Linked DNA regions of Homo sapiens: region 1 is linked to region 2. Evidence: fine-mapped expression QTL. A gene starts in region 2. The other region holds a variant in brackets. All regions are shown on one strand. Distances are from middle to middle.

Region 1 (11,566 bases), 45 kb before region 2:
CTCCAACCCTGGGGCCCTGAGATGGCCCCAGCTCCTCTTGTCCTCAGCCCACCCCTCATTGTGACTTATGAGGAGCAAGCCTGTTGCTGCCAGGAGACTTGGGGAGCAGGACACTTGTGGGCCCTCAGTTCCCCTCTGTCCTCCCGTGGGCCATCCCAGCCTCCTTCCCCCAGAGGAGCGCAGTCACTCCACTTGGCCCCGACCCCGAGCTTAGCCCCTAAGCCCTCCTTTACCCCAGGCCTTCCTGGACTCCTCCCTCCAGCTCCGGAACCTGAGCTCCCCTTCCCTTCTCAAAGCAAGAAGGGAGCGCTGAGGCATGAAGCCCTGGGGAAACTGGCAGTAGGTTTTGGTTTTTATTTTTTGAGACAGGGTCTCGCTCCGTCGCCCAGGCTGGAGTGCAATGTTGCAATCATGGCTCACTGCAGCTTTGAACTCCCAGGCTCAAGCGATCCTCCCATCTCAGCCTCCTGAGTAGCTGGGACTACAGGCACAGGCCACCAAACCTGGCTAATGTTTAAATTTTATGTAGAGATGGCGGGGGGGGCGGGGGTCTCCCTATGTTGCCCAGGCTGGTCTCGAGCTCCTGACCTCAAGTGATCCTCCTGCCCCAGCATTCCAAAGTGCTGGGATTACAGGTGTGAGCCACTGCCTGGCCTGGCCGTAGGTTTGTAACTGTTTCATAGAAGAGCCCTGGAGAAGACAGTAGAATGAGCCTATCTAGTTTAAAAAATAAAGAAGCACGTTGATTTCACCACCGCCACTCCCTGAGCACCTCTATGCTGCCACCCCCACAGGCCCATGAGGAGGGACAGGGCTGGATGAGTTTCTTGGGCCTCTCCCCTCAACAGGGCATGGACTTGGCTAAGACAGCCAGGGGGTGGCAGCAGGAGATGCCACAGCTCTAAATAGCCCGATCCCTGCTCCTGGCTTAAAGCTGCTGCGAGTATCACAAGACTGTCTGAGGATGCCAATTCAGCAGGTCAGCGCCTCCCCACAACACACACACACACACACACACACACACACTCACACATACACAGAGGGGCCTTGAATGAGGAGGAGACAGGAGTCTGAGGGACCCTCAGACTGCCACTCTCCAGGCTTGGCTGGGCTCAAGGCCCCTGTCTGCTCAGTAGGGCAAATCCCAAGGACACGGGCTTCCCTTCCTCCAGCCAGCCAGCCTTTTACACAAAGGCTGGAAACGCTGCTTGGGCCGCCTCTATAGAAATGCCAGGAGAGCGCACTGGACACTAGGCGACAGAATCTGGAGAAAATCCTGCACCCGCCCCTGCCAGCAGGGTGAAATGTGGAGGCCTGGTGTTTTAGGTTCTGCCAGCCAACAGTGCCGGCACTGGACAAGGGCAGAACTTGACATTAGTCCCCAGAGGGTGGCCTGGAACTGGGCTGGGATAGGCCTTGAACTGGCCCCAAGCCCCACAGAAACCAAAACACAGGGCTGGGGCAGACTCCACCTTCTAGCAACTCCAAGAACTAATGCAGAAAGTGGCAGTGTCCCCCGCTCCTTCATGCTGGGAGTGGCGTTTGGCTCTGGTTAATTTGTGTGTCTGAAAGAGGATAATCAGAATCAAAAGGGCCCAGAAGGAATGGGCCGAGCCAGGCGGGCCGGGCCAGGCAGCCCGGGCATCTGGCACTCAGGGCTGTCAGAGGGTCAGGCTGCCAAACTGCAGCCTCAGGATGGGAGGCACAGTGAGGCTAAGTCCAGTTTTAGCAAATGAAGAGCCATTAGCATTGCCCAGCCCCTGCAGAGCCAGGTCTGGCCAGGGGCTGGCTGGGGGGTCTGGGTCAGGTGAGCACCAGACCCAGGGCTGAGTGCCCATCCTGCTTGGCTTCTCTGGTTTCGTATCTGGTACCAAGAGGAAGGGGTGAAGGCTAGGATGAGGGCCCAATACTGAGAAGGCTGCCTTGAAAGGGCAAGAGTCTTTTTTTTTTTTCTTTTGAGACAAAGTCTTGCTCGTCCCCCAGGATGGAGTGCGATGGCGTGATCTCGGCTCACTGCAACCTCTGCCTCCCGGGTTCAAGCGATTCTCTTGCCTCAGCCTCCGGAGTAGCTGGGATTACAGGCGCCCGCCACCATACCCAGCTAATTTTTGTATTTTTAGTAGAGACGGGGTTTCACCATGTTGGCCAGGCTGGTCTCGAACTCCTGACCTCAGGTGATCCACCCGCCTTGACCTCCCAAAGTGCTGGGATTACAGGCGTGAGCCACTGCACCCAGCCAAAAGGGCAAGAGTCTTTAAGGAAGTGAACTGGGAAGCAGAAGCAAGGGAGAAATCACAGGGTTTTTTTTTTGTTTGTTTTTTTGAGATGGAGTCTCGCTCTGTCGCCTAGGCTAGAGTGCAGTGGCACGACCTTGGCTCACTGCAAGCTCCGCCTCCCGGGTTCACACCATTCTCCTGCCTCAGCTTCCCAAGTAGCTGGGACTACAGGCGCCCACCACCATGCCCGGCTAATTTTTTTGTGTTTTTAGTAGAGACAGGGTTTCATAGTGTTAGCCAGGATGGTCTCGATCTCCTGACCTCGTGATCCACCCGCCTCGCCCTCCCAAAGTGCTGGGATTACAGGCGTGAGCCACCATGCCCAGCCTGAAATCACAGCTTTTTATCCCAGAGGCCCATGGGTAGAAACAACACATAGGGCTATGTTCTCTCAGCCCAAAGCTAAGGGCAGGAAAAAAGGCATGGGCCATAGGAGCCTGAGTGACTTGGTTTGGGACAGGAGGGTTGGGGGGCTTTAGAGGGGTCAGGCAGGTCCTGTGTCCTCTCAGTTTCCCTGGAAAGGGGCTTGGAGGCACCAGTCATGGACCTGAAAGGATCAGGGGGTCAGGGAATGGGTAAGTTCCAGAGGATGAGAAGAGGGGGAATGGGAAGTCTTAAACACAGCTACTGGGGCCCAGCAACTTGCCATGTTAAAATGCACCCCTAGTGACTCAAAGAACCACCCGGCCAGTGGTGCAGGAGGAGAGATGTGGCACCTGGGCACAGTGGGAAGGCACGGGGCCTGCACCTCCACCAGAGGAGCCACTGCTGACCTGGACCAAGGGGGCTGCTCTGTGCCCAGCTAGGGAAGCCTGGGCCGGCTCCTGTGCTGAGGTGCTCAGGTGCTGGCTGAGAGCCCAGTTGCTGCTCTAACTTGGAGTGAACCTGGGTCAATAGCAGCTCGTCTCTGGCGGGTGGGAAGGGTCTGACAACACCAAGTTTGCCCTGGAAGAAGGGCAGCCTTAAAGGAAGGCCTTTGGAAGCTGGCCTGGTGCTGTGGGCTTGAGGGACTTTGTGTCCAAGCCCTGTCGTCCTGGCTCCAGCCTAGGCTCCAGCACTCCATTTCTTCCACTGCCACCTGCTGACCAGGAATACCAGGACAGAAGGTTTTGTTCAGCTGCTTTCTTTATTAGAAACAAGTGAGATGTATTGAGCAGAACAACAATGCATTTGGTATTTCCTCCCCGACCCTGGAAATGGATGCCCCCCCACAGCCCAAAGAAAAGCCAAGACAAAAAGGTGAAGCTCCCCCGTCCCTGTTCCCAGACATGGCACCTGCCTGCCAGCCAGTCAGTATTTTTTAATTTAATGGAATGAAATTGTCCTCAACAGCCTCCGTAGGTGTAGTCGGCTTGCAGGCCCGCCTTCATTTTGCAGCAGAGTAAAACTGAAGCCTCAGGCCTCCCCTGGTTCTGGGGAAGGTGGGCCAGGCCATCAGAAGGCTGCCTCACAGGTGGGTAGGCACTGACGGGAGGGACACTCCTGCTCCCTCCCCTGATCTAACATCTGGTTCCCCTCCTTCTCCTAGAGTGCAGCTCCATGCAGTTGTCCAAGGCCTTTGGGCCCTTAGGTTGGTTAAATGCTGGTCGTCTTTGGGGAAAGAATTCAGGACCACAGGGACTCCCCTAGGCTTCTGAGAGCCAGCAAGTAGGGGGGCGACAGCAGTTAGACAGGAGTTGTGGGGAAGGCCTGACATTTTCCATAAACCTGGTGTTAAAGTAGCTGGGTGTGGGCTGGCCTTCAAATAAGACAGAAGCCTCTTCAGAAATAGGCATGTGTGGGGAAACGAGCCCTATACAGGCCTCGATCCGGAGTGGAGGCCTCCTACTCAGCTCTCTCCCTACACACAGACTGGAGTCCGTGGTCAAATGCAGAGTCAATCCAAAGGCAGGAGGTAAAGGTCGTCTTTGAAACATGGCAGCTGGGAGGACTGGGTGGCAGAGGGTGGGGGCCAGGCCCAGGGAGGCCTTCCAACAGCAGTTGCTCGAGGACGGTTAGCGTGAAGGCCTCAGGGTCCTTCCTTTGCTTGGTTTGAGACAGCCATGGCGCTACCACACTGCAGGGCTCCTGTGGGGAGGCCCTGACCCCCGGGATGGTGCTCTCTGAGCTGAAGTCCCAGAAGGGGTTGAATGAAGAACGCAGGGACTACTGGGACAAAAATCAGATGAGCAGCAAGCAGCCCACAAGCCAAACCCTGCACACCTGGGCAGAGTTCTCACCGCAACATAAAGCAGAGTCCGAGGAGCCGGCCACCTGGTTTCAGTGAGGGAGATGCTGGGGCCTTTGCCAGGAGATCTGTTTCTTCCAGAACAGCCACTGGGGCCTCACCGTTTCCATTCCATGACCTGGGTCAACCGAAACAGAGCTCACTCCAGAGATCCGCACAGCCCAAATCTCAGAGGCAGCTCAAGCTGGGACCTGGCCCAGAACAGATCAAGACTAGGACAGGGAGCCTTTCCAAGTTCCAGGTTCCCCCAAGGTAGGAAAGACTTGGGCACTTTGTCCTTTGATATCCTCAAAGGTCTGGACAGGGTGAGCCACTCTGGGGCTTGAGGCACTGTGCAACTGTTGTCTGTGGGGCTGCAAAGCAAGCCCCTGCCTCTCCGACTCCTCCCACCTGTGGAATGCAGTGCGCATCTTGCTAAGAACAGCAGCTTCTTTGGTCTCAGTTTCTTGGAGTCAAGGAGCAAACGTCAGTCACGATTGCTGGGGCCTGCAATTTGCAGCGCAGGAACAATGGGAAAAGGGAGGGCCCTGCAGGCCCCTGATGAAAATCCACCTTAGTGGAGTTGCTGGCTCTAGCAGCAGTCTGCAGAGCGGGCAGCATTCCCACGGGTGGCACGGCCCCCATCCCAAGCATACGATGTCTTCTGGTTTTGGAAACTCTGCAGAATTAGCCTCTGACAAACCACACCAAAACCCACAGCCTGCAACAAGCCCCTGCTGGCCTGTAGAAAGTGGCTTCGGTGAGTGGCACAGGGCTGAGCCTGGCCTCCTGGCTAAGGCTTCATTCCTGTATGAGCGGAGAGGTGACGGCAGCAAGGAAACCCGCACACCACACGTCATGCTACCTCCTTCCCACCACTTGCTTCTCTCTAGAGCAAAAATTACATCCAAGCCTGGAAGTACAATTTCACAGCCCAATTTTGCCCGGTCACTTGGCTGAACACCACTCCAGAATGCCTACATCGACAGCCATGTGACCAGAGGCTTGATTACGTTTTGGGAAACTGGCAGCACTGACAACCATCACTACCACAAAAATCCACAAAACAGCATCAGCGAAAATCAGACTCAGACAATGGAGATGGGAAACCACTTCTGTTGCCAAGTCCAGATCTGCCTCTAATCACTTCTTGCTACCACTTGCAGGCTGTATCTTGGAAAGGGGCACAACAAGAAATGGCTAATGGGTTGGAAGGCACAGGCCAGGGGCTGGTGGCTGAAGGGGTCTGGGTATTGGCCCCACGCCACTCCTGCCTAGCCACCCCAGGGACATCAGGGTGCTGGCTCTTTGCTCTAAGATGAGCTAAGCAGGGCTTACACTGATAATGGTCTCCAAAGGTCCCTGATGTTACAAGGAGGTCCAAGGGCCTCTTCAAACTGCATCATCCCAGGCAGTGGAAAAGCAAAATCTCACAGGGGACTCATCCCTATAAGGTTGGCAACAACTGGCTAAAGAGCCCTTTTAAATCAGTTGGCAGGATGACTTCCTACAGGGAGCAGGCCAAGGGGATGGAAGAAAGGACTCAATCAATGAGGTCTGCTTCTGCGGACCGTCCATTGCTTTGTCTCAGAATGCAGGCAGGTCTGGCCCTGCAGGAAAGTCCCTGCCCAGGGTCAGCCCCAGCCAAGAGCTCCACGTGCTATCCCATGAGATCTGAGCCTGTTCCATCTTCCCTTCCTTCTCAAAGCCAGTCATCCCAGCTGATTCAGAAGGGGAGCTGGATGAGGTTCTCCAGATCCTCTTTTTCCCCATGATAAGCCAATGTCTCCTCTGGAGGAAACCATGAACTGTGCCAACGCGTCTGTCTGCCACTGTCCTCGGGTCCTCATTCTGAGGAATGATCTGGATTCAGCTTTTCATTAAAGACCAAACATCCTTGTACATTTGGAACATGAAAGATATTTAAAATATTTATATATATATAATATATATATATACTTTTATTATTCACCCGTTAACTCCATTATATGCCAATCACGAGCTAGTTTTCAGCAGTTACATTCCCTTGATCACGGCTGCATGAGGATGTAATTAACTGGAAAACACGGAGACCAGAGACACGACCGGAGGTGACGTCACGCAGCCCACGCCATCGCAATACAATTGTCAAGTTCGCTGGCGGTTTGGTAAAGCCGGTTCAGTTCTGCTCCCTTTGCCAGGGATTCTCACGTGTGTGAAAATTGGACCAACAGTGGTGGGGTTCCATTTCCTGGTTCGAATTTTCAGTGGCTTTATC[C/T]AGAATCGCACTGGTGACTGGTTATTGTAGCACCAGTCCAACCTAGGAAAGCCAACAGGGAGAGGCAGAGCTGAGTTGACAGTGGCCCAAAGACTCTCCCACACCCCCTATCCCTGAAGTTCCGAGTGGCTGGGCCCGGGTCCACCGCCTGTGCTGTGGGAGCAGACTCACACCCAGCCGGCCCCACACTCAACCTCCACACCAGGGTTCACACGTCCATCAGACCTCCCAGGGAAAACTGGCCCACGCTCCAGCTCACCCCTATGTCCCCTGTGGCACTGGGGGAGGAAGGGCTAAGAAAGTGTCATGCCAGAAGAGGGCAGCAGCTCAGGAGAGGAAACCTCCTCAGAGTTCCCCCAGCCCTACCCTCCTGGCAAACCGTGGGCAACTCAACTTCCACGGTTCCCTCACGTGGGAAGGCCTCATTGGAGATGATCTTCGTGCTACTGTGTGGCTCTGTCCCCTCTGCCATCCTCACACCAGTTGCTGAGAGGGGAACGCTGACCTGCTGGTCTGGCCAGCAGAGGGAGGGCATTTTCAAAGGTTCAACTCGAGGTAACAAGGACCCAGACTGCGGCTGTCTCCTCAACCCATGGCCCGGTTTCTGCTGGAGACATGGACACCCTGGGCCGGGCAGCCTGGACTCTGGCTATGTGTCGCCTACCTTCTCTGCCCCCATGCTGGGGCATTTCCAATTGTAAAGGTAATACTGCAGGTTGCCGTCCCCTATGCCAAACTTGAGCTTCTCCAGGAAGGTTTTGTTCTCCATGAGATCCAGTGCATTGAACACATCAAACCCTTTCTGCAAAGCAGCAGGGACAAACAAGAACAGGTGAGGACAGGTGGGGACAGCCTCCTTCCTACCCCTTTGCTGCCATTTCAAAGCTGTCCTGTGGGCAGCCACAAGAACAAGGTTCCCTCAGAAGCTCCGCTGCTTCCACGTTAATCCCCGCTCTCCGGGTGGTTCTCAGGACACTCTGAGCGCCCCCTCCAGCCTGGCCTCTGCCCAGTGTCCCTCAGAGTGTACACATATGTACTCAGTGTCCAGGCCGGGGCTCTTGCTATTCCTGGTTATGCCTCCCTGAAACTCTAGTAATTTCCACAGTCCTCTCTGGAGTCCAAACCCTGAGCCCATTCCTCTGAGAAGCTGGCTCTGGTCAGCTACATGGGGTTTGTGTTGCTTCCTTACTCCATGGATGCCCCAACTCTCAGGCCCTCAGTGCACCTCATGTTGTATGACACCTGCTGTGTTGCTTGGAGACTGTGAAGATGCTTCCTAAACCTCACCAACTGGAGCAGAAGCTCTCACAGGGCAGGGACCAGATTGCCTACAGCAGGCTGGGCTGGGCTGGGCACAGGTTACCAGAACCCACAGCAAAGCACTGACAGACGGGCTCGCCATCCGCTACTGGCAGTTGGATGCTCCAATGACTCACCACGACAGACAGCAATCACCCCTTTCCCACGCTGGGAAAGCTGTGAGGAGAAGCCCTGTCCTCCCAGGGAAGGCCTGGCTATTCAGGCTCCTTGGTGGCGCCTCCTGTGAGAACGAAACTCACTGAAATGAATCAGGAGGAGTTCAATGCCTTCACTTCGGATGCTCCTTGTTCCCTCCAAGTTTTGAGTTTCTGCCTAAAAACTGCGGGAACCCTGCCTAAGCAGAACAGATGAGGAGGGCTCAGAGCCTCCAGCCCATGGGAGGCTGCGTCCCGGGAGCTGTGCTCACCATGGCTCCACTGCCTCTTCCCTGCACATCTCCAGAGACCCCCCCGTCTGCTCCTCACCATTTTGGCGAGGACAAGGGCGTCGCTCATGAGGTCTAGAAGAGGGGTCTGGGTGTGAACGTTGTAGAAAGAATAAGCAGCTTTGAGACTCTTGTGGGTTGGATGGTTCATGATGGTGGAGGGCAGCGTATAAAAGCTCAGGAAATCTGTCACCTCTCCGTTTGCGTTCTGAAGGGAAGGCAATAAAGAGGCAATGTCAAGCATGCACAGTGGCACTGCGGCCCGGGAACAAAATGTTTCTCTCACTCCACCTTCAGGCAGCTCTGCCCCTCTAGATAAATGGCTGGAAACTGCAACAGGACATGTGGGGAGGAGGAGGGACATTGGCTCAGGGCACTTGAGGACAGAGCCGTGATCGTGGGCTGAACCTGCCAGACCTCTTTCCCAGCATGGGCACCGCCAGGGACCTCTTCTTGCAGCTCACATCCCCCCAGACTGTGTCTCCTATGTCTGGTCAGCACTGGGTTAAGCTGGGACAGGCAGGGAATTGCAGGCTTTCCTGAAGGATTAAGCGGGGCTCAGTTCTCTCTATTTTGTGTTATCAAAGTGGGGCAGAGGGGGAGAAGGGCTCAAGCCAGATCCAGAGGTATCTTTTCAGCAAATTCAAGCACCAACTCCCTGTTTTTAGGGAGGACCAAACACGGATGGTCAAGGAAGTCTAAGGTGCCAACACTCGAGCCCTGGGAACCCGGCCACTCAGGGGGGTGCCTCTCTGGGAACGTGTTAGAGACCTGGAACACCACTCCCTGACTCACCTCCACCACGAAAGTGTCGATGATATTCTCCTGGGGGTAGAACCAGTGCTCCACCTCCTCCTGGCTCATGACGGGCGTAAGGTGAAATTGCTTCAAGTACCTGGTGAGGAGCTGGTGCACTACTGGAATGTCCTTTGTTTCCATTGGTCGCAGCCCAGCTGTCTTGGGAGTCTGGAGGCAAGACAGAAGAGATGGAGTGAGATGAGCTGATCACCCTGGATCTATCCATGGCAAGGACAGATCAGGCCCTCAAGAGAGAATCCCTGGTCATTCGGCGGCTCCCTGCACCCCCGTGCATATCTCCTCAGGCACAGGGCCTGCCTCTTCCGTATCTTCTGGCCCTTTCCCTCCTAGTCCAGGCAGACTCAGACTGCTACATCAATCAACCATCTACATGGCCCCAGGCTGACTCCCTAAGAAAACACAACCCTTCATGCTCCACCCTTGTTTCAAACTCCCCACCCCAGAAGACAAGAATTTCTACCCTTGGGCCAGGTTGGCCTTTCTAGCTGTACCTTCTGCCCACGCAGCCCAACAGTCCTCACAGGCTTCTCACTGAACTGTGACTGATGCCATCCCACACTCACTGCTCTTTCTCTGCTAGACTTAGAGCACTTCGCGGACAGACCCCAGGGCCCAGCCAGGGTCTGCCCACCCAGACACTATTACACCAGTACTTCCCAGAGAGACACGGCTGTGGGTTACATTCAGAAGAAAAGCAGCATACTCCCAGGATTTTATCCCCAGTCAGCGTCCCACCCGGCAGCTGCTTTTGCTAGAAAAATGCTTCAGTGGAATGAAACCATGTGATCCTGTGGAGCAAATACCGGGGCTGGTAGAACATCCCCAGAGGCTCAGATACACAAAGGTGGCCTTGGGGCAATCTGCAAACAGGGTGGTGTCACAGTTTACAGGCCTCAGTCAGTGCCTGACACAATGCTTCCCAGTGCAGGAATTGCTTTTAAAACTTCAGTTCTAGAACCTCCAGCCTCTAAAATTCCTTGCTAAATCCTCGTCTCTTTAGGGGAACGCTCAATGACCTCATTCTACATGGCAGCTCCCACAATGATACCTCAAATCCTGGACTGAAAACACAGCCATGCTGGGGTTTCCACCCAGACATGGGTGAGACATTCTTCTGCTGCTGCAGCACTCTAAGAATGCTCTCTGCCTGCCTGCCCACCGGCCTAGAACGCAAGGCAGATCTGTCATGAGAACAGAAGGGAGAAGACACATACCACAGTCCCCCAAGCCTGTGCTTTTGGCAGTGTCTAACGGTACTGCAGCAGTCTCTCAAGATGGGACACTAATGACCCCAATCACTAGGTGGATTAGCCTGATTTCAGAGTGATCAATCCTGTTTAGAGGCTGAGGAGTCCAGGCAGGCAGCCTCATGTCAGCAGGAACGCAGTGACTGTGTGCACTGATGACCAATAGGAAGAAGCACTCCGAGGAAAGAGAAGAGATTTTTTCTTTCTTTCCTTTTTTTTTTTTTTTTTTTTTTGCGACGGAGTCTTGCTCTGTCGCCAGGCTGGAGTCCAATGGTGCGATCTCGGCTCGCTGCAACCTCTGCCTCCCAGGTTCAAGCAACTCTGCTGCCTCAGCTTCCCAAGTAGCTGGGATTACAGGCACATACCACACCCAGCTAATTTTTGTGTTTTTAGTAGAGACAGGGTTTCACCATGTTGGCAGGATGGTCTCAATCTCTTGACCTCGTGATCCACCCGCCTTGTCCTGCCAAAGTGCTGGGATTACAGGCGTGAGCCACCGCCCACCTGAGAAGGGATTTTAAGAATCCCTACTGGGATGGGCACAGTGGCTCATGCCTGTAATCCCAGCACTTTGAGAGGCTGAGGTGGGTGGATCACTTGAGCCCAGGAATTCAGATGAGCCTGGGCAACATGGCAAAATCCTTTTTTTGTTGTTGTTGTTTTTTTTGAGATGGAGTCTCGCTCTGTGGGCCAGGCTGGAGTGCAATGGCGCTATCTCAGCTCACTGCAAGCTCCGCCTCCCGGGTTCACGCCATTCTCCTGCCTCAGCCTCCCGAGTAGCTGGGACTACAGGCGCCCACCACCAAGCCCGGCTAATTTTTTTTTGTATTTTTAGTAGAGACGGGGTTTCACCATGTTAGCCAGGATGGTCTCGATCTCCTGACCTCGTGATCCACTCGCCTAGGCCTCCCAAAGTGCTGGGATTACAGGTGTGAGCCACCGCGCCTGGCCTTCTTTTTTTTTTTTTTTTTTTTTTTTTTTTTTTTTTGAGACGGAGTCTTGCTCTGTTGCCTAGGT
Region 2 (11,566 bases):
AAACTGCTGTGCCATGAGCAGCGAGTCCCTGAAATAGGCTCTCATTTACTTTCCATTTCTTCTGCTTTCCAGTCTCTTCTCTTTGAAGCAGCTCTTGATTAGTTTCTTTTTAATTGCCATTTAATTGGGAAACAAAATTAGAACACTTATTTGATATCAGTGATGAGGTTTCTCTTTCCATTCTGCTTTGATCTAGTTTTGAAAAACCAAAAGTTGAAGGGAGAAATTAAAAAGGAACTAAAAAGATTTCTTATTTCCAAGAGCTAGCTGCAGCTATAAGCCATCAAATAAATAGGGAAAGAACGACTCTTGGAGAAGCTGAAGAAAAAAACAAAAACAAGTAAGGCTAGCTTTATGGAATTTATTTTCAGAAAGACTTTTCTCTCCTCCTAAGTTTTCATAAGGGATAGTATCTCACAACCAGGAAATGAGGAGAACTTATAAAGAATCCATGTTAACCTGTCCCAGGGAGTAAGAGAGCAGGATGGAGATGAGACACCTCTTGTCAGAGGGCTCTTGACCCGTGCTTACCAGGATCTCAATGACACTGAAGACACTGCAAAATAAATTCCGAAAGATTCCTAGAACACAATAGTCTAAAAGTTCTTTTTTGTTCCAAAACACTCAGACAATCTTCACTTATTACCCCCAAATTAAAATCTGCCAACTGATGAGATTTATTCTTTGGCAATACTTCTTGGAAAGACTCTCATTAAAAAAAAAAAAAAATCAAATTAAACCATATAGATGAATCACGAACTACAGGGGGATGCTGCATAAAGGTTATCTTATCTGACTCTCCTCTCAATTGTTCAGGATAATTACGCTAGGCACGTAACTGGGGGAAATTGAGTGCAGTAAAAAAACAAACAAAACCAGCTGGATGCAGGAGCTTATGCCCACAATCCCAGCAGTTTGGGAGGCCAAGGTGGCAGCATCACTTGAGGCCAGCAGTTTGAGACCAGCCTGGGCTAAATAGTGAGACCCCATCTCTACAGAAACTTTTTAAAAAGAAAATTAGCCAGGGATGATGGTGCATGTCTACAATCCTAGCTACTTGGGAGGCTGAGGTGGGAGGATCGCTTGAGCCCAGGTCAAAGGCTGCAGTAAGCCATGATCACACCACTGTACTATAGCCTGGACGACAGAGCGAGGCCCTGTTTCCAAAGTAATAACAATAATTTTAAAATTAAATTAAAAAATTTTTAAATAGAAAAACTGAAGAGACGCACCCATACACACTGCATATGTATGCATGTATACCTATATGTATACATGAAGGGTTTGGGTTTTTTTGTTTTTATTTATAGAGATGGGGTCTCACCATGTTGCCCAGGCTGGTCTCGAACTCCTGAGCTCAAGTGATTTTTCTGCCTCAGCCTCCCAAAGTGCTGAGATTACAGGCATGAGCCACTACACACAACCACATGAAGTTTTATATTCACCAAATGTTTATGCTGATTTAATTACGGAGGAAACACAAGACCAGAAAAGTCAAGAACTAAATTCATATACAAAGAGACATAAGTAACTAATACAACTGGCCGGGCGTGGTGGCTCACACCTGTAATCCTAGCACTTTCGGAGGCCAAGGCAGGTGGATTGCCTGAGCTCAGGAGTTCAAGACCAGCCTGGGCAACAACGGTGAAACCCCGTCTCTACTAAAATATGAAAAATTAGCCGGGTGTGGCAGTGTGCTCCTGTAGTCCCAGCTACTCAGGAGGCTGAGGCAGGAGAATTTCTTGAACCCGGGAGGCAGAGGTTGCAGTGAGCCAAGATCGCGCCACAGCACTCCAGCCCGGGCAACAGAATCCAGTACATGAATTTAGCTCATTTTATTAGCATAGAGTACTATGACTTTAGTTCCTGAAAAAAAGGGGCAGGAGGCTGGGTGTGGTGGCTCATGCTTACAATCCCAGCACTTTGGGAGGCTAAGGCAGGAGGATCACTTGAACCCAGGAGTTTGAGACTAGTCTGAGCAACATAGCGAGACACAGTCTCTTTAAAAAAAAAAAAAGGCCCAGGAGAATAAGGGTTAGCTCGAACTATCATTAACCTTTATTATATATTACACATTTTAGACTCTCTAGCATTGAAAGGAAAACTTCTCTGTCAATTTTTACATGATTTTTGAGAACATTTTAAATAATATTAAGACAAAAAACATTTCAAGAAGCAAAACACAGTGGAAAGCACACAACAGTGGAAAGCTCCACAGCAAATTGGAGCTTCCTGGTTTCTGTAGGTATTTCTTTTTTTTTTTTTTTTTTTTTGAGACAGAGTCTGGCTCTGTCGCCCAGGCTGGAGTGCAATGGCGCAATCTCGGCTCACTGCAAGCTCCGCCTCACAGGGTCACACCATTCTCCTGCCTCAGCCTCCCGAGTAGCTGGGACTACAGGCATGCGCCACCACACCTGGCTAATTTTTTGTATTTTTATTAGAGATGGGGTTTCACTGTGTTAGCCAGGATGGTCTCGATCTCCTGACCTCATGATCCCGCCCGCCTTAGCCTCCCAAAGTGCTGGGATTACAGGTGTGAGCCACCATGCCCTGCCTCTGTAGGTATTTCATAAAAACTGTAGTGAGGCTTACAATGAGAATTATTTGGGGAGAGAAAATGTGTATGTAAGAAAAATCTGACATCCTCTCACTTGGTGAGGGGAGATGAAACTCCACTAATACTGGGCTAGGCACTTTAATATCTGCCATTCATTCATACAGCAAATACTCATTAATGCCCACTAAGTGCTAGGCATTTCGAAGACACAATCCTGTTTACATGCTCCTTACTGTCAGATGAGACAGGTACCAGACACATTAAGAAAAATTACCAAACATGTAGTTATATTTATTGTTATTATAACTATTGTTACGATAAAAGCTACAATACAGTATGTGATAAGAGCAGAGGGGCAAGCTGGGAGGTTAGGGACGATCTGAAGAAAGAGGAGGAGGGAGGAAAAGGAGTGCATTCCAGATGTTATCTCATTAATCCCTACAACTCTGAGTTAAGTACCTTTCCCAAGGTCACAGGACTGTTAAGTGTCAGAGCCAAGCTTTGAGATGAGATTTTGAGATCAGAGGCTTGCTCTGTCGCCCAGGCTGGAGTGCACTGGAGAGATCTCAGCTCAGTGCAACCTCTGCCTCCTGTTTTCAAGTGATTCTCCTGCCTCAGCCTCCTAAGTAGCTAGGATTACAGGCGCCTGCCATCATGCCCAGCTAATTTTTGTATTTTTAGTAGAGATGAGGTTTCACTATGCTGGCCAGGCTGGTCTCAAACTCCTGACCACAAGCGATCTGCCCACCTCAGCCTCCCAAAGTGCTGGGATTACAGATGTGCGCCACCGCGCCTGGCCTCAGACCAGATTTAAATTATTCCAAAGTCCATGCTTTTCTACTGTGCCGTGCTGCATTTTCCCACATTGCTGCTTCTCCCCAAAACCATTTCCTCTCAAAGTTCATGGAAAAATGTTGACTCTACCCCAGATTCTTAGTGCCAGAATTAGACTCTCTCCTCCAGACTAGGCCCTTGGTTTTTCACCTACTACCTCCAAACTCATTTTCACAGATCTTTAGATTTGGGACGCTAATAAACATAATTTTTTCACCCAGACCATAACCATGCACAGAGACACCACTGCAAACTGTCAAAGTTTTTAAGGTTATCACTTACTTCTACTACAAATAAAATAATTTTATTTATTTATTTTTTTGAGATGGAGTCTCGCTCCGTTGCCAAGCTGGTGTGCAGTGGCGCAATCTCAGCTCACTGCAACCTCCGCCTCCCGGGTTCGAGTGATTCTCCTGCCTCAGCCTCCCGAGTAGCTGGGACTACAGGTATGCACCACCATGCCCAGCTAATTTTTCTATTTTTAATAGAGACAGGGTTTCACCATGTTAGCCAGGATGGTCTCAATCTCTTGACCTCGTGATCCACCCGCCTCGGCCTCCCAGAGTGATGGGATTACAGGCATGAGCCACTGTGTGCCACTTTTTTTTCTGAGACAGGGCTTTGCTCTATTGCCCAGGCTGGAGTGCAGTGGTGCAATCTCAACTCACTGCAGCCTCCACCTCCCAGGTTCAAGTGATTCTCCTGCCTCAGTCTCCGGAGTAGCTGGGACTATAGGCGTACGCCACCATGCCCAGCTAAATTTTGTATTTTTAGTGGAGACGGGGTTTCACCATGTTGGCCATGCTGTTCTCGAACTGCTGACCTCAAGTGATCCACCTGCCTCGGCCTCCCAAAGTGCTGGGATTACAGGTGTGAGCTACCACGCCAGGCCAATAAAATAACTTTCTGGCACACAGTTTTGAAAAGTGATTCACAGATTATAGGGCACAAACCTAAGGACACTGGTCAGGACAACAGTTAAGAAGATAAAAATAAAAGCAACTACAAAAAGAGCAAAGAAAATGCCACACTTTCACTTCTGGAATGACTTTCACATTCACCAACTCTCATCTGTGATTCAGATCTCTACTCAGGAGAGCTTCACTTTCCCTTCTTCCTGTTCCTACTTCCTCTTTCTCAGCTCTTCCATTTTTAGGAATATCAAACTTCAAAAGAAGACTTTTATTACATTAGATCTGTTGTGAGTTACAGCAACAGAACAGTCTTATAAAAACTAAATTTGGCAAGCTTCCTATTCCTCTACTTTCTTCCTGTGATTTTTTTTTTTTTTTTTTTTTTTTGAGTCGGAGTCTCGCTCTGTCGCCCAGGCTGGAGTGCAGTGGCGTGATCTCAGCTCACTGCAAGCTCTGCCTCCTGGGTTCACGCCATTCTCCTGCCTTAGCCTCCCGAGTAGTTGGGACTACAGGCGCCCGCCACCACGCCCGGCTAAATTTTTTGTATTTTTAGTAGAGATGGGATTTCACAGTGTTAGCCAGGATGGTCTCGATCTCCTGACCTCGTGATCTGCCTCCCAAAGTACTGGGATTACAGGCATGAGCCACCATGCCCGGCCCTTCCTGTGATTTTTAATGCCGGCTGAAGAACATAAAAGCTAGATCTTTTAACCTAAGATTTACCACAAGCAGATTATAAACCACTTAAATACAGTCATGCTTCACTGAACGTCAGGCATATGTGCTGGGAAATGCATGGTTAGGTGATTTTTGCCTTGCCAACATTATAGGGTGTACTTACACAAATCTAGATGGTATAGCCTACTAAATGCCTAGGCTATATGGTGTACATTACAGTAACATGCTATACAGGTTTGTAGCCTAGGAGCAATAGGCTGCTGCATGTTACTGAGTACTGCAGGCAACTATAATACAATGGTAAGTATTTGTGTATCTAAGCATACCTAAACATAGAAAGGATACAATAAAAATATGTACTATAATCTTGTGGGACCATCTCTTCTACGCAGTCCTTGGTCTTTATACCTTTATATCTGCACTGCCACCAATACTGCGAATAACAAGCTGGCTACGAAAATCAGACTACCTCAGACTCAGCAAGTTATACACCCAAAAATCTCTCACGACTTTCAGTTTAAAAATATATCTACAAATATAGACAGGAAGATGGGGAGAGACAGCGTGAGTGCCAGTGCCAGGCACTAACCATGTGAAGAAAGATGAATAAGCTGTGGCTTACAGAAGTAAAAACTAATTTGGGAAAAGAATTCAACATTCAAATGCCTGGTGTGTTTCTTCATCCCTAGGAACAAATAGTAACTAATGGCAAGACCCTAAAGTACAGGATAGGCAGTATGGAGCCCGAGGATTCCAAATACTCTCCAAGAAACAACATCGCTCATTTCTTGAAGCCTGGGGCTGCTCTGCAAAGGTAACAAGGCAAAGATGTTCGAAGACTTAATTATATTAATATATCGTTCAGGATACTTATGGATTATTTGGAGCAATGGAAACTATGTAAATCAAAGCATTACCATACCGTTAATTACATAGGTTTATAAGGTGAGTTTATATTTTGGGATTCTCTGGTAGTGATATTTTACAATATAATTATACATACAGTTTGTATAGTCTGATGAGTTTCCTCACTGAGGGTGAACTGCTGCGAAATGTTTTATGATTCGTTTATTGCTAGTCACGTTGTTCAAACAACACGTCTATAAGTAACGTTCCCTTTGAACTGTACTGTTACTAGACTGTCCTGTGTTGTACCATCGAAAACCATCGTCCAACATGCTCTTTTCCCAGGAATGGCCTGAAGCACACGAGTGGAACACTGCATAGAACTTTTATATAATAAAAGTACTGAACGTCTCCGGCCCTTAATATCCAGAGCACCCACCCTTGGTAAATGACAAAGGCAATAACCAATCGCCAGGCAGAATCCTAGTGACTTAGCCAATAAGAACATGAGGGTGGGGCTAGACTAAGCTCCCGGTGACTTCCCCGCACCCCAGAGACCCAGGTTGTGGGAGGCTGGACGGGAATTGGACTCCGAGGATTTCGTTACCCCCGGTTGTAGCTGTTGTCCTCCTCATTCTCGCAATCGCTGCAGTGCTCATGGCCGTTCCCGTTCCCTTCCATCATCTGCGGCAGCGGAGGTGCCGGCGGCTTCACTGCTGTCTCACTCTCGTCCGCCATCTTGAGTTGCGAGAGCAGGGCTCCGCGCCCCACTACATGGGGGGTTCCTATTGGACAAGGGGAATTTGCGCTGCATTCTGGGTTTTGTAGTTTTTCTGGCGAAGCGAGCTGCCACTAGGAGCGACTCTTTCCCAGGAAACTGACTACAATACCCAGGAATCACGAGGGACGGCTCCGGTCGGATTAAGAGGCGGGGCCACTGATACCCGGAAGCCTAGGCATTCGGCCACGCTTTGAGGAAAGAAGGGGCGCAAGGTTGGTGGGACCGACCCTTGGGAACCGGGCGGCCGCCTGGCATGATGGGAGTTGTAGTTCGATGCTGGTTTAGGGTTTCAGGCGTGGAGGTTCCAAAATCCGAGGTTTGATTTCAGCCTGCCCTTGCCAGTGCCTGGGCCGCTGGGAGCCGTTATTGGCTGCCGTTAAGGACCGTTACGTTTCCCGGGTAAGTGAAAGGGCCTGAGGCCCGCGGGTGCTACCTGCCTGGAGCCGGAATGCCCCAGGCCTTCTTAGAGTGGGCTTTTCCGCAAGAAGCCTAGTTGACTCCTGGCCGCCTTCCTCACTCGGGAGTCTGGGCAACCTGCGGTCATTGGCAGTTCAAGGTCTCATGAGAGGCAGTGGATTTTTTTGTGCGAAGCACTGACCCTAAGCCAGGAGACCACACTGCTAGGGAGGCAGGGCTCGCCGCCTCATCTTGGCCTCCAGGTACTTATCTTCGCCAAGCTCTTTCGCGCACACGTGGTCCCTTTAATTCCCCACAAGAATTTTCCACAACGACCCTTTTTTTCTTTTCTTTTCTTTCTTTCTTTCTTTTTTCTTTTTTAAATACGGCCGCCTTCTGTCGCCCAGGCTGGAGCGCAATGGCTCAAGATCACAGCTCACTGCAATCAAGGTATCCTCCCACCTCAGCCTCCCAAGTACCTAGGACTATAGGCATGAGCCACCACACCCGGATAATTTATATATTTTTTGTAGAGACGAGGGTCTCGCCTTGTTGCCCAGGCTGGTCTCGAACTCCTGGCCTCTAAGGATCTTCCTACCCCAACCCCGCAAAGTGCTGGGATTACAGACGTGAGCCACGGCACCCAGCCCACATCAACTCTTTCTTTAATAAGTGCCAGACTCTGTAGTAAGGCATTTCGTACATTATCTCATTTAATCCTCTCAACAAGTCTACAATATAGGTCCTATTATTATTATTCAACCTTTGTTTTGTTTTGTTTTGTTTTGAGACGGAGTCTCTCTCTGACTCCCAGGCTGGAGTGCAGTGGTGCGATCTCGGCTCACTGCAACCTTCGCCTCCTGGGTTCAAGCGATTCTCTTGCCTCGGCCTCCTGAGTAGCTGGGATTAAAGGCGCACGCCACCACACCTGGCTAATTTTTGTATTTTTAGTAGAGACGGGGTTTCACCATGTTGGTCAGGCTGGTCTCGAACTCCTGACCTCGTGATCTGCCCATTTCGGCCTCCCAAAGTGCTGGGATTAGAGGTGTGAGCCACCGTACCTGGCCATATTGACCTTTTTGACAGATGAAAAAATGTGGCCCTGAGAGGTTGGTAAATTGCACAGTCACATAGCTGGTTAAGTGGCAAATCGGTATACAAATCCAGATCTGTGTGCCCCAGGCCCTCTGAATTCTTTGCCACCATAAAAGTCCCATTTTCTGATACACTATTCACTCAAGGAAATCAGTTACTAAAAGGTAACTGTGACTCCAGTGCGTATTCTATATCAGGGGAAAAAAGGTAACTGCCACATTTTAATCTGTTTTTAACCTTGATTGAATGTTTCAGTCCCTGAGTCTCACTCTTTTGATTGAGTAATCTCGCCTAAGTGCCCAAAGACATGGTTCCCATTCTTGGAAATTTCCTATTCGGGTTGAGTGTGGTGGGTGATGAGAGGACTAATTCTTACCATCAGAGTGCTCCATGGCCAAAAAGGGAAATGATCTTTGCCTTTGGGAAAGATCTCAACATGGGAAGAATGGCAGGGCGGGAAGAAACAGTTCCCATCTGACTCAGGGAAAGAAAACACAAATAAAACACAGAACTAAATATAGTCAACTCTTTCTTTCTTTTTTTTTTCTGAGACGGAGTCTCGCTCTCTTGCTCTGTCGCCCAGGCTGGATTGCAGTGGCGCGATTTTGGCTCACTGCAAGCTCTGCCTCCCGGGTTCACGCCATTCTCCTACCTCAGCCTCCCAAGTAGCTGGGACTACAGGTGCCCGCCACCTCACCCGGCTAATTTTTTGTATTTTTAGTAGAGACGGGGTTTCACCGTGTTAGCCAGGGTGGGCTCGATCTCCTGACCTCGTGATCTGCCCGCCTCGGCCTCCCAAAGTGCTGGGATTACAGGCGTGAGCCACCGCGCCCGGCCAACTCAACTCTGTTTTTATATCAATGGCATAAGCATAAGTAATTATGATCCAAAGCAGCAGATAATCCTCAGTCATTTATATTTGACTTTGGAAGGCAGTCAAAGATGCCCACTCAGTCTGAGAGCTGTCACCACACTCAACTCTCCGGGGTCTAAGACTGCTGTTCAACGCGATTGCCCTATTTGCAGCTGCAGGGAAGGGGGGGGTCAGAGGTAAGAAGAAGAATAATAAAGCCAGGCCAGGCGCTGGGGCTTATGCCAGTAATCCCAGCACTTTGGGAAGCCGAGGTGGGTGGATCACCTGAGGTCAGGAGTTCGAGACCAGCCTGGCCAACGTGGCGAAACCCCGTCTCTACTGAAAATACAAAAAAATTAGCTGGGCTTAGTGGTGGGCGCCTATAATCCCAGCTACTTGGGAGGCTGAGACGCGAGAATCTTTTGAACCTGGGAGGCGGAGGTTGCAGTAAGCCAAGATTCTGCCACTGCACTCCAGCCTGGGTGACAAAGTGGGACTCTGTCTCAAAAAAAATAAAAAGTAGGCTGGGCGTGGTGGCTCATGCCTGTAATCCCAGCACTTTGGGATTACAATAATAAAATAAAAGATAAAAAGATATTTTGTGTGTTATTTTTATTTATTATTATTTTTGAGACTGTCTCGCTCTGTCGCCTACGCTGGAGTGCAATGGCGCAATCTCGGCTTGCTGCAACCTCTGCCTCCTGGATTCAAGTGATCCTGCCACCTCAGCCTCCCCGGTAGCTGGGACTACAGGTGCGCACCCCCATGCCTGGCTAATTTTTGTACTTACAGTAGAGATGGGGTTTCACCACGTTGGCCAGGCTGGTCTTAAACTCCTGACCTCAGGTAATCCACCTGCCTTGGCCTCCCAAAGTGCTGGAATTACAGGTGTGAGCCACCACGCCCAGGCTTTTTTTTTTTTTTTTTTTTTTTTGAGACGGAATCTCACTGTCACCCAAGTTGGAGTGCAGTGGCACAATCTCGACTCATTGCAACCTCTGCCTTCCAGGTTTAAGCGATTCTCCTGCCTCAGCCTCCCAAGTAGCTGGGATTACAGGTGCCTGCCACCACGCCCAGCTAATTTTTGTACTTTTAGTAGAGACAGGGTTTCACCACGTTGGCCAGGCTGGTCTCGAACTCCTGACCTCAGGTGATCCGCCCACCTCGCTCTCCCAAAGTGCTGAGATTACAGGTGTGAGACACTGCACCTGGCCTGAATTACTGTTTTTTTTTTTTTTTTGAGATGGAGTCGCACTCTGTTGCCCAGGCTGGAGTGCAGTGGCACTATCTCGGCTCACTGCAACCTCTGCCTCCTGGATTCCAGCAGTTCTCCTGCCTCAACCTCCCGAGTAGCTGGGATTACAGGCACACACCGCCATGCCCAGCTAATTTTTTGTATTTTAGTAGAGACGGGGTTTCACCATGTTGCCCAGGCTGGTCTCCAACTCCTGAGCTCAGGCAATCCGCCTGCCTCGGCCTCCCAAAGTGCTGGGATTACAGGCATGAGCCACTGCGCCCAGCCGAGAGCTTTCCACTTTGAAACAATTTTGGTTTGTGAAAAGCTGGCCCGGTTCTGCCTTATGGAGTTATGCAGAAATATAGCTGGGTGAGGTGGCTCATGCCTGTAATCCCAACACTTTGGGAGGCTGAGATGGGTGGATCACTTGAGCCCAGGAGTGTGAGACCTGCCTGGGCAACATAGAGGACCCTGTCTCTAAAAAAAATACAAAAATTAGCGTGGCATTGTGGCATGCACCTATGGTTCTAGCTACTTGGGAGGCTGAGGTGGGAGGATCGCTGGAACCCAGGATCATGCCACTGCACTCCAGCCCGGACAACATGGCAAGGCCCCGTCTCTATATAAATAGGAAAAAAGGGCCAGGCGCAGTGGCTCACGCCTGTAATCCCAGTACTTTGGGAGGCCAAGGCGGGCAGATCATGAGGTCAGGGGATCGAGACCATCCTGGCTAACATGGTGAAACCCTGTCTCTACTGAAAATACAAAAAATTAGCCAGACGTGGTGGCGGGCGTCTGTAGTCCCAGCTACTTGGTAGGCTGAGGCAGGAGAACGGTGTAAACCAGGGAGGCGGAGCTTGCAGTGAGCGGAGATCACGCCACCGCACTCCAGCCTGGGTGACAGAGCGAGGCTCTGTCTCAAAGGAAAAAGGGCCAGGCACGGTGGCTCATGCCTATAATCCCAGCACTTTGGGAGGCCAAGGCAGGCGGATCACCTGAGGTCAGGAGTTTGAGACCAGCCTGGCCAACGTGGTGAAACCCCGTCTCTACTAAAAATACAAAATTTAGCTGGGCACAGTGGTGGACGCCTGTAATCCCAGCTACTCGGGAGGCTGAGGCAGGGAGAATTGCTTGAACCCGGGAAGTGGAGGTTGCAGTGAGCCGAGATCGCACCATTGCACTCCAACCTGGGCGACAGAGCAAGACTCTGTCTTGGGAAAAAAAAAATATATATAAAAAAGAGTGCAGGCAGAGTGTGACTCCCTGGGTTCTAAATCCTGGCTCTGCCTCTGACTTAATGAATGACCTTAGGCAAGTCACTTAACCTCTGAGCTTTGATGTCATTATCTGTAAAATAAGACTTACATAGAGAGCC

Evidence for each region.
Region 1: its variant is fine-mapped to the expression of NMT1 in whole blood (TOPMed, PIP 0.99).

The regions. Positions count from the first base shown.
Region 1 is chr17:45,100,834-45,112,399 of GRCh38, reverse strand. It overlaps NMT1 (N-myristoyltransferase 1), which reads right to left. Exons shown (of 12, transcript NM_021079.5): 9 at 9,279-9,449; 10 at 8,524-8,691; 11 at 7,404-7,541; 12 at 3,384-6,781. The coding sequence ends at 6,761. PLCD3 (phospholipase C delta 3) reads left to right here. Exons shown (of 15, transcript NM_133373.5): 15 at 1-3,441. Among named protein-coding and RNA genes, the nearest start is that of MIR6784, 7.8 kb to the left of the region's middle. RefSeq lists enhancers at 1-470, 5,040-5,541, 8,374-8,874. The variant C/T (reference allele first, on the strand shown) is at 6,740.
Region 2 is chr17:45,056,331-45,067,896 of GRCh38, reverse strand. It overlaps NMT1 (N-myristoyltransferase 1), which reads right to left and starts at 6,580. Exons shown (of 12, transcript NM_021079.5): 1 at 6,437-6,580. The coding sequence starts at 6,567. It also overlaps a transcript of DCAKD not described here. RefSeq lists enhancers at 6,140-6,219, 6,162-6,456, 6,310-6,669, 5,817-6,808, 6,770-6,949 and 1 more.